Regions from separate parts of the Homo sapiens genome. Here region 1 is linked to region 2. A link means that fine-mapping ties the variant in region 2 to the expression of a gene that starts in the linked region. Tissue or cell type: monocytes. Region 2 holds a variant in brackets; the other region holds the start of a gene. All regions are shown on one strand. Distances are between the middles of the regions.

What was found. PIP is the estimated chance that this variant, and not a neighbour inherited with it, causes the effect.
Region 1: SCAMP1 starts here. The variant in region 2 is fine-mapped to the expression of SCAMP1 in monocytes (Quach 2016, PIP 0.95).

The regions. Positions count from the first base shown.
Region 1 is chr5:78,356,056-78,364,507 of GRCh38, reverse strand. It overlaps SCAMP1 (secretory carrier membrane protein 1), which reads right to left and starts at 3,891. Exons shown (of 9, transcript NM_004866.6): 1 at 3,780-3,891. The coding sequence starts at 3,836. SCAMP1-AS1 (SCAMP1 antisense RNA 1) reads left to right here and starts at 3,967. Exons shown (of 2, transcript NR_105014.1): 1 at 3,967-4,294; 2 at 4,523-5,744. RefSeq lists enhancers at 3,132-3,251, 3,646-4,242, 4,162-4,321, 4,352-4,441, 4,243-4,839 and silencers at 3,342-3,461, 3,892-3,981.
Region 2 is chr5:78,478,095-78,486,546 of GRCh38, reverse strand. It overlaps SCAMP1 (secretory carrier membrane protein 1), which reads right to left. Exons shown (of 9, transcript NM_004866.6): 9 at 5,808-8,452. It overlaps LHFPL2 (LHFPL tetraspan subfamily member 2), which reads left to right. Exons shown (of 5, transcript NM_005779.3): 5 at 1-1,317. Among named protein-coding and RNA genes, the nearest start is that of SCAMP1, 120 kb to the right of the region's middle. The variant T/C (reference allele first, on the strand shown) is at 4,074.

The sequences.
Region 1 (8,452 bases), 120 kb after region 2:
AGTGTGCCTCTGTGGGCTTTGTTTTTTAATCTATGAGATCTGACTGAATATATTTTAAGAATTTGCCCCCCCAGCTGTGAAATTCTAATTCTCTTCATATTTTAAAAATTAATTTAAATGTTATTTCCATAATGAACTATCTTATTCAATCAATTATCATGTTAATATGCAAAAGCATAAAGCATGAAAATTTTCTGACCACTTACTAATTTCTTCCTTTTATGAACAAACTGCACTTGTTCCGGCACTTAACCATACACTCTTATGCTGACTTGTAAGAGCCTATATTGCTGACCTCTGCTGGTTATTAAACTCTCCCCTTTCATTCATTTTCCAAGCATATTTGTCTCACTGTTAGACTAATAGCCATAAGGACAGAGACACTTCTTCAGTATTTGTTGAATGAATAAACTCAACAGAAAACAAAGGACATACAGCAATTCTTCAATAATTACATGTTGACTATACAGAAAATATTTTTCCCTCTATAGCTTTAAAACCCCATTTTAACAGCTCAAGAGTGGATCCTCAGAAACTTCTATATAATTAATCACCTATTTTCTTTTCGATCACTACAGATTTCCAGTTATTCCAAGTTTCTTGATGCGCAATGAAAGCCATTCAAATTTCATAAAACCATTCACTAAGCCTAGGAAAACCACTAGAATATAAAGCAGGGGCTCAACAAAAAAAAATGAACTGAATCCAGCAAATAGCCTTACAAGAACCAATAAAATCAAGTAAACCACTATGGTTATATTATATAAGGAGAATAGACTCAAACTACTTTCATGATACGGCACAAACGAAGATGCTTGCAGAAGTATTCCTAACATAAAAGTGAAGGAAAAGAAATGCTAAAAAATGAAAAAGGCAATGGAAAACAAATAGGATTTAATGAAAAAGAAATTAGCATAGTTACCAAATGCGAAATATCATATACTTGAAAATAAGAGCTTTATCTTCAAATACTGCAAATAAAAACAGATTTGAAAAATGGGTCGGGCCCAGTGGTTCACGCCTGTAATCCCAGCACTTTGGGAGGCCAAGGCGGGTAGATCACGAGGTCAGGAGATCGAGACCATCCTGGCTAACACGGTGAAACCCCGTCTCTACTAAAAATACAAAAAATCAGCCGGTGGTGGCGGGCGCCTGTAGTCCCAGCTACTTGGGAGTCTGAGGCAGGAGAATGGTGTGAACCCAGGAGGCAGCGCTTGCAGTGAGCAGAGATCGCGCCACTGCACTCCAACCTGGGCGACAGAGGGAGACTCCGTCTCAAAAAAAAAAAGAAAGAAAGAAAGAAAGAAAAACGATCTGCTTGAACGCAGTGGCTCCCGCCCGTAATCCCAGCACTTTGGGAGACTGAGGCAGGTGGATCACGAGGTCAGGAGTTCAAGACCAGCCTGGCCAATACAATGAAACCCTGTCTCTACTAAAAATACAAAGAATTAGCCGGGTGTGGTGGCGGGCACCTGTAATACCAGCTACTAGGGAGGTTGAGGCAGGAGAATCACTTGAACACGGGAGGCAGAGGTTGTGGTGAGTTGAGATCACGCCATTGCACTCCAGCCGGGGCAACAGTGCAAGACTCCGTCTCAAAAAAAAAAAAAAAGTAAAAAAAGAAAAATGATCATAAAGTAACTCAAATGATTCTAGAAACATTTCAGATTTAAGTAGAGTATCAGAAATGTTATTTCAAAAATCACTTTTACATAAATATAAGCAGAAGTAAAAAGACAAAATATAGATATAAAACTATACTTTGTGAGGAGGAGGGGCAGGTGAACATAAATGGAAAAATAAAGGGTCAGATACACTGACAGTGCTATAACAGTCACCAAAAACAGAGAAAGATCATAAGCAGAAATATGTGTACAACCAAGTCTACTTTAGACCTAAATGATCTGTCCCTGATGCATTTTACAAACTTGAATAATCATTGTCCTGGATACATCCACTTATAAAAGAACAAAAAAGATTTATAACGTTATGCCACAATGAATATTTAAAACAACTCCTGGGTTTAGAATTACTACAGCAACTTTATGAATGTCAGAAGAGGAAAAGTGTCATGGCAATATCAGATGTCACAAAAGGACAGTCTGGGCTAAGATGAAGACAATGTTTTGCCCTAACAAGAGAGCCAGTTAATATGAAATGAACCATGAAATGGAATGACCAAGTAGAAAATACACTGCCAAATCGTCAGATGCTGAATAAACAGCGTCAGTGAATTATCTGAATTAGGAAAGGCTAAAAGGTTCTTGATGTTTTATCTTCAAAATATTTTAAAATAACACCCATTTAACAATTTATGAACGGTCTCTTTAGAAAGTCTACCATTTAAGAACTACCTGATTTTCCACAACATGGAAGCAAGTCCAATACTAATTGAAACAAAACTGCCAGGAAAAAAAAAAAAGTCTTAAAATGCAACCATGTCACTGAAAGGTACAGGCCAGTTGTACTGAATTTTAAGTGACATTAGGGACAATGAAACAGTGACTGAGTCTAATTCTACACTGCTACAAAGTGAGTCGAGTTGTCAATAATAATCAGGGTCATTTCATTAAAATAATCCTCCTTGGAATTATCAGGCATTTAATAATCAGAGCAGAAATAGTTTTCCTCTTCCAGGATTCTTAATGAAAGATAAAACCAGGAGTAAAAAGATGTAAACTCAACAAGCCAGAAGTGACACTTGTGTGACCACAAATTAGAGTTCCTGTTTTATTCTGTGTGACTGCAAATTAAAGTTACTACTGCACATGGCCGGGGGGATTGAGAAACAACTTCAACCAACAGTTGGAAACAAATTACACGTGCTAACAGTTACACTCATTAGGAAATTCAGAATACTTTCAAAGAGAGAGTTATTTAGATGTTGCATTCATTTAAACGCAGACGATGAATATCTCAGCCGCCTTCCTTTGCAGGATTCTGTGCCAAGCCCTTCCGAAGCCGGGGTTGATAAGGTCGACTCCAAGAAGAAAAGCAGCTCAAGTAGGAAATGGTATCCTCACATAGCCCAGAGAACCGGTGACGCACTAGGAGCTTGGAAAATATCCCATCGTTTACCTTGCTAGAAGCAGCTGGGTAGGGAAGAGGTCGTCCACGTGCACTATTGTTTTCCAGATATGTTTATTTTTAAGTTTTGCTTTGGTATCAATAACCTCAACCTCAACCTAACAGAAAGAGGGGGGATGGCAGCGCCACTGGTGGTATTTGGGTGCAACACAAGTTTAAAAAATAAAAACATAACCTTTTTTTTTTTAATTGCAGCATACTCGGTGCCCTCACCTCTCTCCTCCTCCACACCTCTGCCATCACCCCACGCAGCTCTCCGCCGCCGCCACCTCGGGTCCCCATGACAACCCCACCCCAGGGCGGGCCCCCCTCCGCCGACTCCCGGCCCTGCCAGCCACACTTGCTTGGCAAGGGGCGACTCTACCTGCCCTCGGCTTTCTCTCCTGAGAGGCGGGCCAGGACCCCTCCGGGCGCGCGGGCCCAGTCCCGGCTGCAGACACGACCCTCACCAGTCGGGGACGTGTGGAAGGGCGACCGGGCACGAGCTGAGGAGGTTCCACCCCCAAGCCCCAAAACCCAAAGGAGTGACACGGGGCCGGGGCGCGACCCCAAATGGAGGACGGCGGCCCCGCGCCCCTCTCTGGGCTGCTAAGGGGAGCCGAGGGGCAGACGCAGTGGGCGCGAAGGAACTCGTCCGTTTTCACAAACAACGACGCGTCGCGGCGGCAGGAGATGCTGGGGCCGAAGCTCACCTTGAAGGGATTGTTGAGATCCGGGTCGGCAAACGGGTTACTGTCGAAATCCGACATCTCTCTGGCTCTCGGCGTCACCCACCCGACCCAGGCGCAGAGAGAGAGACGAGGCGAGGCCGCCGCCCCCCTGCGCGCTCACGTCGCCGCCGCCGAGCAGATCCGGGTGCAGCTCGCGGGCCACCCAGCCGGCCGCGCCACTGAGCATGCCCGGTGCGGCGGGCTCCTGGCCGCGGCGCAGCTCGCGTTCGCCATCCCGTTCCTCCGGGCCCGGATCCCACGCTCCGGGCTTTAGCTGCGACCGAGTAGGCAGTCGGGGCGAAGGAAACGGGAACTGAAAGCGATGAAAAGCGTTCCACACGCCACGAGCCCGCGGGATCCTCGGAGAGTATGGAACCCTTCCCCTCCGCTCTCAGCCGGAGGCCAGCTGCGTCCAGCCGGGCTCGGTCTTCTGAACACCGATTTCAAATCAGGTCCTCGGGGCCCAGCGTCACTTAGGGAAGTGGTGGCATTTTGTGGTAAGGACGCACACTTGTCAGGTTGGGGGAGGCAGCCTGAGTCGTGGGCCGCGCACCCCGGGAGCAGTGCCGTTAGACCGTGGGACGCGGGCACTGGAGAGGCTACTGCACCGCCCTCCGCAAATTACCTCCCCGGGGCGGGGGCGCGGCCGCTGCTAAGGATTTTTGCATACCCCTGACCCCACCTGAGAATCCCGGCCTCCCATCTTCCGGTCTCTCTGACTCTAGGTTGCTGCTAAATCACGGAGAGCAGCCTTGGCGCTGCCGGTCCCAACTTGATCCAAGGAGCCTTGAGAAGGAGATGAGATTCAGTACCAGGGGCCGGCCGTGGCTCCCATCCTCCGGAATCTGCAAAATGGCTACTTCTTCAGAAATAATGGGGAGAGGGATGGCAAGAGGCCAGAGATCAAGGCCCTCGAGTATTAACTTGAGCATTTGGGCACAAAATAGACACTTTTGGATTTTCCCGTCTTTTCCAACACCAAGGATGAGATTATCAAAAGATGTGTTAAATTAATTTGTACCGGCCGGGCGCGGTGGCTTACGCCTGTAATCCCAACACTTTGGGAGGCCGAGGCGGGCGAATCACAAGGTCATGAGTTCGAAACCAGCCTGGCCAATATGGTGAAACCCCCGTCTCTACTAAAAATACAGAAATTAGCCGGGAGTGGTGGCGTACGCCTGTAGTCCCAGCTACTCTGGAGGCTAAGGCAGGAGAATCGCTTGAATCCGGGAGGTGGAGGTCGCAGTGAGCCGAGACCGGGCCACTGCACTCCAGCCTGGGAGACAGAGCGAGACTCTGTCTCAAGAAAAAAAAAAAATCAATTTGTACCATTCCTTGCCCCACCCTGCCGAACTTATTGAAAGAGCATCGCTTTCCTCACTTTTCTCCTCTAACAGAAAAGCACTTAGATGAAGCTACAGGGAGCCAGAATTCTTTTGACTTGGTGGGTACCGGAGGATTGGAAGAATCTAGATTGAGTATTCCTTGGCCTTTGGGGAGCTTGCTCTATGCAAAGTCACCCAGGAAATGATACTCCCCCCACTGTGAAACACTAGCTAGAGATGATAGACAAAAAGCACATTTGTTGTAATCTCCCTTTGACGGGATTCAGGTTGGGATAGATGTCGAAGCAGCTGCTTCTAGGTAGTCAACGAAGATGTCAACTAGTAAATGACAACAGACAAGGATGAGCACAGCAGAGCTGTACGATTCTAGATATCAAAAAGAGCAAGCAGTCTGTTGTACTCACCATCGCATCCTCAGCAGCTGCCCAGTGCCCGGTTTTAACTTAGTGCTCAGTGTATGTGTCAGGTTTGAATCCCAATTCTGATACTACCTGTGCTACTCTCTTCACCTCTCTGAGTCTGTAAAGGATTATTTAAGAATTAAATGAAACAACATACAGAAAAGTGTCCTGCATGTATATTTAGTGCCTAACAAATATTGGTTGAACGTCGAAAGTGGCAAGGAGGCTCAGTATGTTCTTATACGCTTTGCCTCCCTTCTCCTGAGCAAGCATGTCCTTGCCCAGCTCATCTGCTTCTCTCACCACTTTTGCCCTCACTCCCTCCACCTGTCCTCCAAATGACTCAAAATAATCTGCACTATTTATTATGCATCTACTATGTTCCAAGACAATGAGGGTCAGCTGAGCCCGCATTGCAGGATGGAAATTTCCAACTATGTTCTGTTTACAGCTAATGATATTTGCACCTAATGCAAAGGTTTACAGACTTTACTGTTATAGAATCATTTGGAATACCTGTTGAAGATGCAGACACCCACCTTACCATACCTCCTATTGCTAAGATTACGCTTGAAAGGATCTGAGGTAGGGGCTCTGGATCTGCATTTTTTATTTTTTACATCTCTATACATTATTTTACATAAATGTATAAATGGAGTCATGACATACATATTGAATTTTTCACTTACAAAAATTTTTATTCCGTGTATTCCCTCTTCTCTTCCCCTACATTAACAACCTAGTACATTTCTTTAAATATTCTTGTAATAGTGTATATCTGCACTTACATAAAATAACATGTAATTGTATAAAAACAATACATATTCATGCAGATATGCATACACTCTAATACTGAGCTTTGGCATTGTCTTGAAAAAGTTAGATCATATGTATATTTTTCTGCAGCTGTTTTTCTCAATACGTATGGCAGAATTTCTCAGCAAGATGTGCATTGTCAGAGAGACAGTCTTAAGGTTTCTTCCCCTAGTATGCCACATAAATATTATCACTTTTTATGTGTAGCATGCCTATAGAGTGAAAAGGGAAGCATGGCCTAATGGAAACCATATATCTGATTCATTATTCTTAACAACTGCAAAAATCAGCATATGTAAAGGATCTCAGGTGATTTTTTTTTTTTTTTTTTTTGAGACCGAGTCTTACTCTGTCACCCAGGCTGGAGTGCAGTGGCACAATCGTGGCTCACTACAACCTCCACCTCCCTTGTTTAAGCAATTCTCCTGCCTCAGCCTCCCGAGTAGCTGGGATTACAGGCATGCACCACCACACCCGGCTAATTTTTGTATTTTTAGTAGAGATAGGGTTTCACTTTGTTTGCCAGGCTGGTCTCGAACTCCTGACCTCAAATGATCCAGGCCACCTCTGCCTCCCAAAGTGCTGGGATTACAGGCATGAGCCACCATGCTTGGCCAACCTGAGATGACTTTGGTGGTGGCTGATCACACTTTTGGGAACACTGATATGAGGACATGCAGACATATGGTCCATGGGTGAGGGTCTTAATCTGTTTGTGTTGCTATAAAGGAATACGGGAGGCTGGATAATGTATGAAGAAAAGAGGATTATTTGACTCATGGTTCTGCAGGCTGTCAGCTTCAGATGAGGGCCTTATGCTGCTTCCACTCATGCAGAAGGCAAAGGGGAGACTTCGTGCAGAGATCACATGGCTACAGTGCAAGATGGGGCATCAGGGGAGAGAAAGGGAGAAGCTGACTCTCGGTTCTTTTGAACAACCTGTTCTCAAGGATGAGAACTCACTCTCAGGAGAATAGCACCAAGCCATTTGTGAGGAATTCATCCATATGGCCCAAACACCTCCCACCAGGCCCCAACTCCAGCACTGGGACTCATATTTCAACATGACACTTTGCAGGTCCAAAGCCATACCCAAACCATAGCAGGGAGCTTATTAATTCATTAGCCTCCATGAAATTTAGAATTATAGAATGTGCGAGCTGAGAAGGAACCTCAGCCTCTCTCATGATTGAAGAAACTGGAGTTTGGACAGGTTAAGTAATTTGTCTCAGACACCAAGGAAGTGAATGGGGAAACAGGGAACAGAACTCAGGTCTCTTGACTAATGTTTTAGACATTAAATAAATAGGTTATTAAATGAATAGAATTATTCTATATGAATAATTTCATATAGAAGGAAGAAATGCTATGTGCAAGGTAGAGAGAAATTATACAAGAAGCCTCATTTGGTGCAGGAGTTCATTTTACGGAAGGTACCTCCTAAATTTGGTAGAACAAAGACTCAAAACCAGTCTATGCCCTCTCTCCTGCAAACCAACCGTTTGATCTTGAACATATCAACTCACCTTTCTAACCAGAGTTTCTACTCTAGTACATCATTCAAGTATTTCTTGAGCAACTAAAACAGTGATGTTGTGGATAAAGCAGTAAACCAGGTATAAAGCGTAAGGCCTGCTCCAGAAAACTTCCTAAAAGGCCTAGAACATGGCTAAAGGATATCTCAGATCCTTTGGACAGTTCTAACGTTCTATTAATCTGGGACAGTGGCTCACTCCTCCCTAACCCTGTTTCTTTTCCCCTCAGAGTGTGCCTCCCATCATCATCATGCTGCTTCTCCTCAGACTGACACTTTTAATTGGTGAACCTATTGAGCAGGGTCTAGAGTCTGAATTCCTTGTTTTCTAAACTGCCTAGCTTATAGCTGGGGAATGCTAGGAAAATGCCAAGTTAGATATTTACGTTTCTTGCCTCAAAAGGTTCACTGGATTCTGGGTTCACTGATGGATTAGAACTGAAATCCATCATCTCTTACAGTGGGTCTAGTCTCCAGATTTGCTGCTGTGTCTGCTGATACCCTCGACGCCCCAGCACCAGCCTATCTGGCTCCCTATTCTGCCACTGGCTACATTTT
Region 2 (8,452 bases):
GAATCCATTAGCCAGGCTTGGGATGAAAGGACCATCTAAAATCATGCTAGTCTAAACCATGCTCTTCCACACAGCTGTTTAAAAACCACTGGGTATGAGGAATATGCTAGAAAGAAATGTTAAAAATAGATTGTTGGCTCACACTTATTTTTCTAATAAATAGGACCATTATTACTACCAGGAAAGTCTTATTTATTTTGCCTGAAATTGGCTTAAAGAAAGTCTCATGACGGGATGGGATGGGCTGCGCTTCTCAATGAACTCTGAGGCAGAAATATTTGCCTTGGATTCTGTGGATTCTTTAAACCTGTGTGCTAATAATTCAAACAATGTTGCATTAATTGTATAAGGGTTTTTGTATAGTTTTCAAACATCTGTGGTGTAATGATCTTTGTTAAACATATATTCTGTAAAGTGCCATAGTCTTTTTTTATGTGTAGCATATTTAAAAATATATATGTATATTATACATACACAAGTTTGTGTGAAAGATGTGCAATAACAAAGGTGTATGTATGTTTTGTTGTTTTGTTTTGGAAACTGGACAGGAGTCAAAACAGGGATGTTTGTTTCTGTTTTGGCAAGGAGAGTTCCACATTTTTGCCTTCATGGCTTATTCAGTAACCCATAATTTTAATGCTACACAAATCTTATGTGAAGAAAAGACTGGTATGAAATCATTTTTTCCTGGGTCTAAAATAATCGCTAGTGTTATGTCAAAGTTAAGCCCGCACGCCAGGCCCAGTTAATGCTAGTCTTTCATGTGAAATGTGAAGCTGCCATGTTGCCTTTTCTCTTAGTAGGATAACTAGTAGCTGGTACATAATCACTGAGGAGCTATTTCTTAACATGCTTTTATAGACCATGCTAATGCTAGACCAGTATTTAAGGGCTAATCTCACACCTCCTTAGCTGTAAGAGTCTGGCTTAGAACAGACCTCTCTGTGCAATAACTTGTGGCCACTGGAAATCCCTGGGCCGGCATTTGTATTGGGGTTGCAATGACTCCCAAGGGCCAAAAGAGTTAAAGGCACGACTGGGATTTCTTCTGAGACTGTGGTGAAACTCCTTCCAAGGCTGAGGGGGTCAGTAGGTGCTCTGGAGGGACTCGGCACCACTTGATATTCAACAGCCACTTGAGCCAAATATAAAATTGTATTTACAGCTGATGGACTCAATTTGAGCCTTCAAACTTGTAGTTATCCTATTATATTGTAAACTAATACATTGTCTAGCATTGATTTGGTTCCTGTGCATATGTATTTTCACTATGTGCTCCCCTCCCCAGATCTTAATTAAACCAGATTTTGCAATTCATTCTTATTCTTTCAAGTCTGAGTATACTGGCTTCAATATGATGTGTATAATCTGATCAAGAAAATACCTATCAATCAGTCAACATTTATTTTAAACACTAACTTACATGTAATATTGATGAATGGAAAAAAGATATTCAGGTATTTTAAACTATCCCATTCACTAGTAACATATATGTCCCTACCCTGGGCTATCTTTCTTTAACGTCAAGTATGTATTTCTTCCTTGAAGAAGCATCAACACAATTGTAAATAGGAAAAAACATCTCAAGTATTGTAAACATATATTTTAAAGTAAAGCTATGAAATATGAAAATGCTCCGAAGTATTAAAAAGGGATTTTCAAACATAAATATGTAACAATGACAAGGGGAAAAGTTAACTGAAAGACACATCCTCCTCTTCCAACAACATCCCTAAAAATAAAAGCCAATGATACGGTGCCATTCCACATCCATGTTTCCTGAAGGTAATCCTGGCCATATAAACCCTCATCCAGAAGAGGTGGAATTCTAATTTATAAACTCAAGAATGACACTAAATGCCCTTCTCAACTCTCAACTCTCTGTATCCCATGAAGCATTTATTATTTCATACCAAAAAAAGGCAGTTTCTTCCCCTGATCTAGGGCCTATGACAGTTGAAATTAGATTCATGTTTTGGTTTCTAATAAAAGCTGACAAAGTTACCCATATCAGTTTAAAAAAACCACACACAGTTTTCCAAATAATCATGATTTGAATAACCCAAGAAAAATTAGAAAATTTCCATTGCTTTTTCAGCTGTTATTGTATTCCCCAAAAGTTAATCCACACAGAGAATGGACCCTGGTTGAATTTTAGCAGAAGCTGGGGAATCCTCCCATGTGCTTCCCCCGCTTCCCATCCTTAGTTGTTATCTAGCAATTCTGCTACTAGGTCCACTTTCCACACTGATCTTTCTGGAACATGCTGCATTCAAATTACACCTACACCCCCTTAAAGTTTTTGCTTAACCAAACAACCACTTACAACGGTCCTTACTAACGTGGATATTTTATGTGGATATTATTTCAGTAGTTTCAAACAATCTTTTTCAACTCTCAAACAATGAAGGGTAGGGTATCAAAGCAAACTTTACTCTTCAAAGCAGTAAGAACCAATAACTTTATTTCAGAGGCCCTCACTAGCAGCTGAGTCATTTGGCAGAGCCATCCCACTGCTCCCCCTACTACTATCTTCTTCCTTGCAACTTCCTCTCCTTACCCTGAACAGTTGTGCAAGATAAGTCTTGCAGACAAGAACTGCCAATTTTACTAAGGTACACAGGACACAGATAAAAGCACACAAAAAGAGGAAGTAGTGAAACCAAAACCACATGGGAAAGAAAAGTCAATCAAGTAACACATTGCTATTAGCAGCTTTTTAGCTTTTTCTAGCCAAACATCCTGAAAAATTGAACACCTACAGGTAGGCAGTCCAAATGCCTATGTTTAGGGGAAACCACTATGATTTTATTCACAAGAGACGAAAGCCTGAATTAAGGCAGTGATGGTAAAGGACAGTCAATGGGATGAATTCTATGTTAGGGAAAAAGAATGGGCAGGTGACTGATCAGAAGTGGAGAGGAAGGAGAGGAAAGAGTCTAGGATGACAGCCAGGTATTTAGCGTAGACACTGAGTGGAAGGTGATGTGATCACCAAGATGAAGACTCCAGAAGAAGCAGGGACAATGAAGGTGAGGAGGTTCAGCTTAGGCTGCCAATGTAGAAGTCCTGTGTGCAGCTAGGACTATACTAAGGAGAGAGAGAGATTTGGGAGTCATCAATACACCTGAGAGATGGTAAGTGTCCTTAGTTATTGTGCAACTTCTATGGGCAGATACTATGCTAAATACTTCATAAAATTCATTTATTCATCAAAATCCTATGAGATAGAAACTGTTACTATTGTTTTACAGATAACTGTCACTTAAATAACTGAGGTTAAATAATGTATCCCAGGTTAGAAAGCTAATAAGCGGAAAAGCCAAAGCTCAGATACATGTTTGACACCAAAGGCAACTCACTCAAACTGCTATGTTGTTTCCTTCTACCTGGAATGCACAAGGTGGGAAGGCAGCCAATGCAAACTCCTGGGCAATATCTCTACATTGTAAACACTTAGAATAACTTCCAAATAAAACTCCAAAAGGGCCTCACCATCACAACTGATGAAAACACTGCTTCTTCCTCCCTTTCAGAGAAAACACCTAGTGATTTTTCATAATTTTGAAGATGACACCATATGTCTCAATTTATCAATCATGATTTAGCTCAATCCTGAAAACAGACACAAGAAATTCATTAAGTATGTGACAGTGGGAAAATAAATGATAGGCTTTGACAGTTTTTATTGTTTTCTTAGTATAAATAATCTCTCATTCAGGGTAAGCAACTATTATAATCACATAAGAAGCATATTTAACCTAATAATAAGGATTTGTCCTCGACTAAAGTTTCTCCAAACACACAAACGCCAAAGACCCTTTAGTAAATTTACACTGCTGAAGAATGGGCAGCAGGTACTCACCTTTAGGTGGCAGGTGTTAGCATTTGGTCTGGAGACTTCAAAAATATATGTAAAAATTTTTTTTGTTGATTTTTTTTCTAGTATCTGTTGTCCCTAAAGGATGGACATGAATGACTGGAAATGTGGAAGGATGAAAGGGAAGACAACTGGAACGAGGCGGCATGGTGGGGCAGCCACGCTTGGCAGGAGTCAGGGGACCTGCCTGTTC[T/C]CATCATCCCTCTCCAGCCCTTCACCACCACCACTCACTGAGTGACCTTGGGGTAATTTCCTAGAACTCTACAAAAACAGAGCCAACAACAGAAATTATATCACAAGTTTGGTATGAAAATTAAGTGATGTATATAAAGCATTTAGTACAGAACACTGGTATATAATTAAGCCCACAATAAGCTATTATTAGAAAAAAACTAAGAAAATACTACCCACCCAGACTAATATCATTTTAAAATTACATTCTATGAAAGGTAACATAACTTGTCGAAACCAGTGTAATTTTACCTGGAGAGACTCAGTGGATTGGCTACCTGAGGCCACCATTTCTTTTTCCATCCTGTTATAACAGAGCATTCAGCTAATTATCTTTACCTTAGAGCTTTCAGGAAGCAGAAGATTTCTCAGTGGATGCAGGGTACTCAGTTACTCCTATTTAGCAAAAACAAAAACAAACAAACAAACCGGTAGCATTGGGTGAGCACATAAGCCATGTGAAACCAGAATGCTCAGAAAAGAAACCTGATTTGTCAAAATCTATTGGGATAAAAGACTTTTTAGAAAAGGAACATCCAATGCTGGCCAAGGATGTGAAGAAAGAGGCCTTTCCGTACATTGCTGATGGAGTTACATATGGATAAAATTTTTCTGGAGAGCAACTTGGCAAAGCACATGAAAGGTGCTTTAAAAACTATGCATAATACCCTTTAACTCAGCAATCTGTCCTAAAGAAAAAACAAAAGCCCGAGTCCCCAAATTTAGCAACAATATATTCCTTGATAAATTATTTATAACTTTAAAACCCTGAAAATCAGAACCTAAAGGAATAACAAGACTTTATGATACATACATATGATGTTAGCTATATAGCTATACTAAATGTTACAGAAATATATTCAGAGATATTAAAATCTTCAATACATATTTATATCATAACTGAAATAAGATAAACTGTTGTGTTAAGATCCTCCAGTTAAAAGTAATAAGAAACCAATTCAAGATAGTTGAGGGAGAAAAAGCGGTAAGATTATGAGGATAATGGGATAAGGGTGAGAAGTAGGGCTCCATAAAGGAAAAGGAAAGCCACTAAGATCTTTTCTATGTCATTCATTTTACATCTCCTGTTATGTCTGTTTCATTCTTCATTTTCATTGCAGACCAGCTTTCTTGGTGATTCCTTCCTCATGGCAGAAAATGGCTACCTCTTATGTTCCAATTCTGGAACAGTAGAGTTCTAGACATATCTACATTCAGAATAAAAAACTGATAAGCCAGGAATGAGTCCACTATGGCCAGATGACATCCAGTACCAATGTGGACTTTAAGGACCCAAAGAAGTGGGGCTTTTGAGGAGTAGGTAGACATCCCTAAAGGATGTACAAGGATGTACGGGGTCATCTCATTTTTAATATTAGGAAGTTGTCTTCCTAGAAAAATAGAAAGATATAAACCAGATTTTAATAGAAGTTATTCATGGATGTAAAATTATGAGAATTTTGGTTATTTCTTTTGCTTATATTTTCTATAATTTATACTGAAATATACATTAATTTTATAAATTAAAAAAGTTAATTTAAAAAACTAAACTATTGCGCCATTATGACATAAAGCTAAGTGAGGGGAAAATAAGGTTTTTAAAAATCCATATTGCTTATATCTCTTAACTAAACAAAACACATATGCATAGAAAAAGAATGGAAGACAATAAAATATTAGCAGAGGTACCCCAAGATGACAGAATTAAGGATTTATTTTTATTTTCTCATGTATCACTTTCTGAATTTTTAATTGTTCTACAACACATTATGTATTGCTTTTATACTAGAAAAAAAGTGTGAGGGATGCATAGGCCCAGTGGGTTCAGTTTTTGTGCAGGAGACTAGAATACTGTAGATACCACAGTGATCACCAGATAAAAGACACTGATTTTTGGTGTTTTCCCCCATCCCCAAAATACCTGAATACTACTACAAACTGCCAACAGTAACAACTACTACAATCATGATTTATCTTGAGAATCACTGGCATACAAAATATTAAAAGTTGTGGAGGAATTCTAGAATTACATTTAAGTAAGCACTGAAAATAACTAGAATTTAAAAATAAAACTTGTATGGTATTATTCTACAAACTAGAACTGTTTTAATGTATAGAAGATAATATTCACAGTAATCTTATATTACTAGGTGGATGATTAACTATTTTCTGCTCCTATTACAGAAAAGATTAAATGGCTTTTAGTGTTAGGAGGGTTTCAGCTACACCATCAGCCATGTCAAGCCCAGAAAGATATGAACTGAAAAATAAATCAGGATTTGGACAAACACAAAGTTTAACACTCACTACATTGCCACATGATAGTTCCCATGTTCCCTTGCCATTTGAAACACGGCCAGCACTAATGAAAATTCTTTTTTTTTTTTCTTGAGATGGAGTCTCGCTCTGTCGCCCAGGCTGGAGTGCAGTGGAGAGATCTCGGCTCACTGCAAGCTCCGCCTCCCAGGTTCACGTCATTCTCCTGCCTCAGCCTCCCAAGTAGCTGGGACTACAGGCGCCCGCCACCATGCTCAGCTAATTTTTTTTTTGTATTTTTAGTAGAGATGGGGTTTCACCATGTTAGCCAGGATGGTTTCGATCTCCTGACCTCGTGATCCGCCCACCTTGGCCTCCCAAAGTGCTGGGATTACAGGCGTGAGCCACCACACCTGGCCAAAATCCTATACATTAAATGTTTGTCTTACCCAAACCCCAAAGTTAAATTGTAAATATAAAACCCACAGCGGGGGTGAGAAAACTGGAGAACAGTCTTTCTCTATTTTCCTACAATCTTCAAATAAGAGGTATCTGCTTATATAAGACAGGTTAGTGGCAATACCTGGCTTAGAAAGTTTCTAGATTTATTTCTAGCTCTCTACATACTGTGATAAAGTCCTAAAGTTTAAAAATACCCACCAATATTACAGGCATGCTGCTTTATAAAATATGCCCTAAAATTCTAGCCAAAATACTTCACTTTCTGTAATACTTAATATGTGAGATAAAACTTTTTAGCTCAATAAAAAAGTATTTAAAACAACTCATGTTTTAAACACATTAGTCTACTCTAAATAAATGTATACTATTGTACTTTAAAATGTATCAAAGTAAGGTGTTTTCTATTTTTTAACCATCCTCAATTTTTTTAAAATTAACCAATCTTATTTCATCTCTAAAGGGCTTAATCACATGAAATGAACAAATTCCTCTAAACATTTTCCTTAAGGAAAAACTGAAAGGAGATATAGTGAAATGGTATATGACAGCCATGGTAACTCTAAGGTATACATAAGCAGGGGAAAAAATGCTCAAAATGTAACAAATTCTGTATATAAACAGTCATGCCAAACACAGATTTGTACCAATAAGGATACTGAATTAGATGTTAACAACAGTGTTTTCAGAAAAAGATACAGCAATGAGTAAAAAGCACTATGCTATTACAAATGATTTACAGAAACAACTAATTAACCTAACATAAATCCCCTTAAAATGCAAACCATACATAATCTTAACATGAATTACAGAATAAAATATTTTCCTAGTAAATTAGGTGTAAAAATCCAAACTTGCTTTTTTAAATATAACACCCAGAAAATAAAGAATACTGTTCCTTTTTTAACATGTATTTCTCAAAATAAGATTCACCATGAACATTATTTTAGATATTTTTACATCTTCTTTAGCTAACCAAGTGAAAAATCCAATATACACAAATAGGTACTTTCATCAGTACATAAAACAGCAATAGGTAGCAAGGATAGAAATCAGAATACAAGTTCAATTGAATAAATACAATACTAGTACAGAGACACCCATTTTTAACCCACAATGAAAAATCTGAGCCATGAATAGGTTTTCCATTTTGAATCTAACTTCTAGATGATCTGTATTTTGACCTTAAAGGGGCCAAAATATTTAATATGGGTGAAGCTCATGTTCCATTACCTGTAAAGGTCTAATGCAACAGAAAAATGGTCATTTTACATTGGTTAGAATTTTTAACTAGGTCTTTCATATTATTTTGTTTAGCACATGACAGACTTATACACATATTTTAAAAAATCAAACATGGAATTTCTATATACATCAAACCTTTAACAATGTCTGTCTCTGAATTGCTATTATAGTGTTCAAAATTATACAAACAAACATCCAGTAAACAGCATTTTATTTTATGACACTCTGTGTTAATACAATAAATATACAAAACTTCCAACCCACTGAAACATGCAACATTAGAGGGACACATGGAGGGCATTTCTGTAGAACCATGACAGTCACCATGATGGCAGCGCAGTATTAGTTACTGACAAAATATACAAACATCTCTAGATAAAT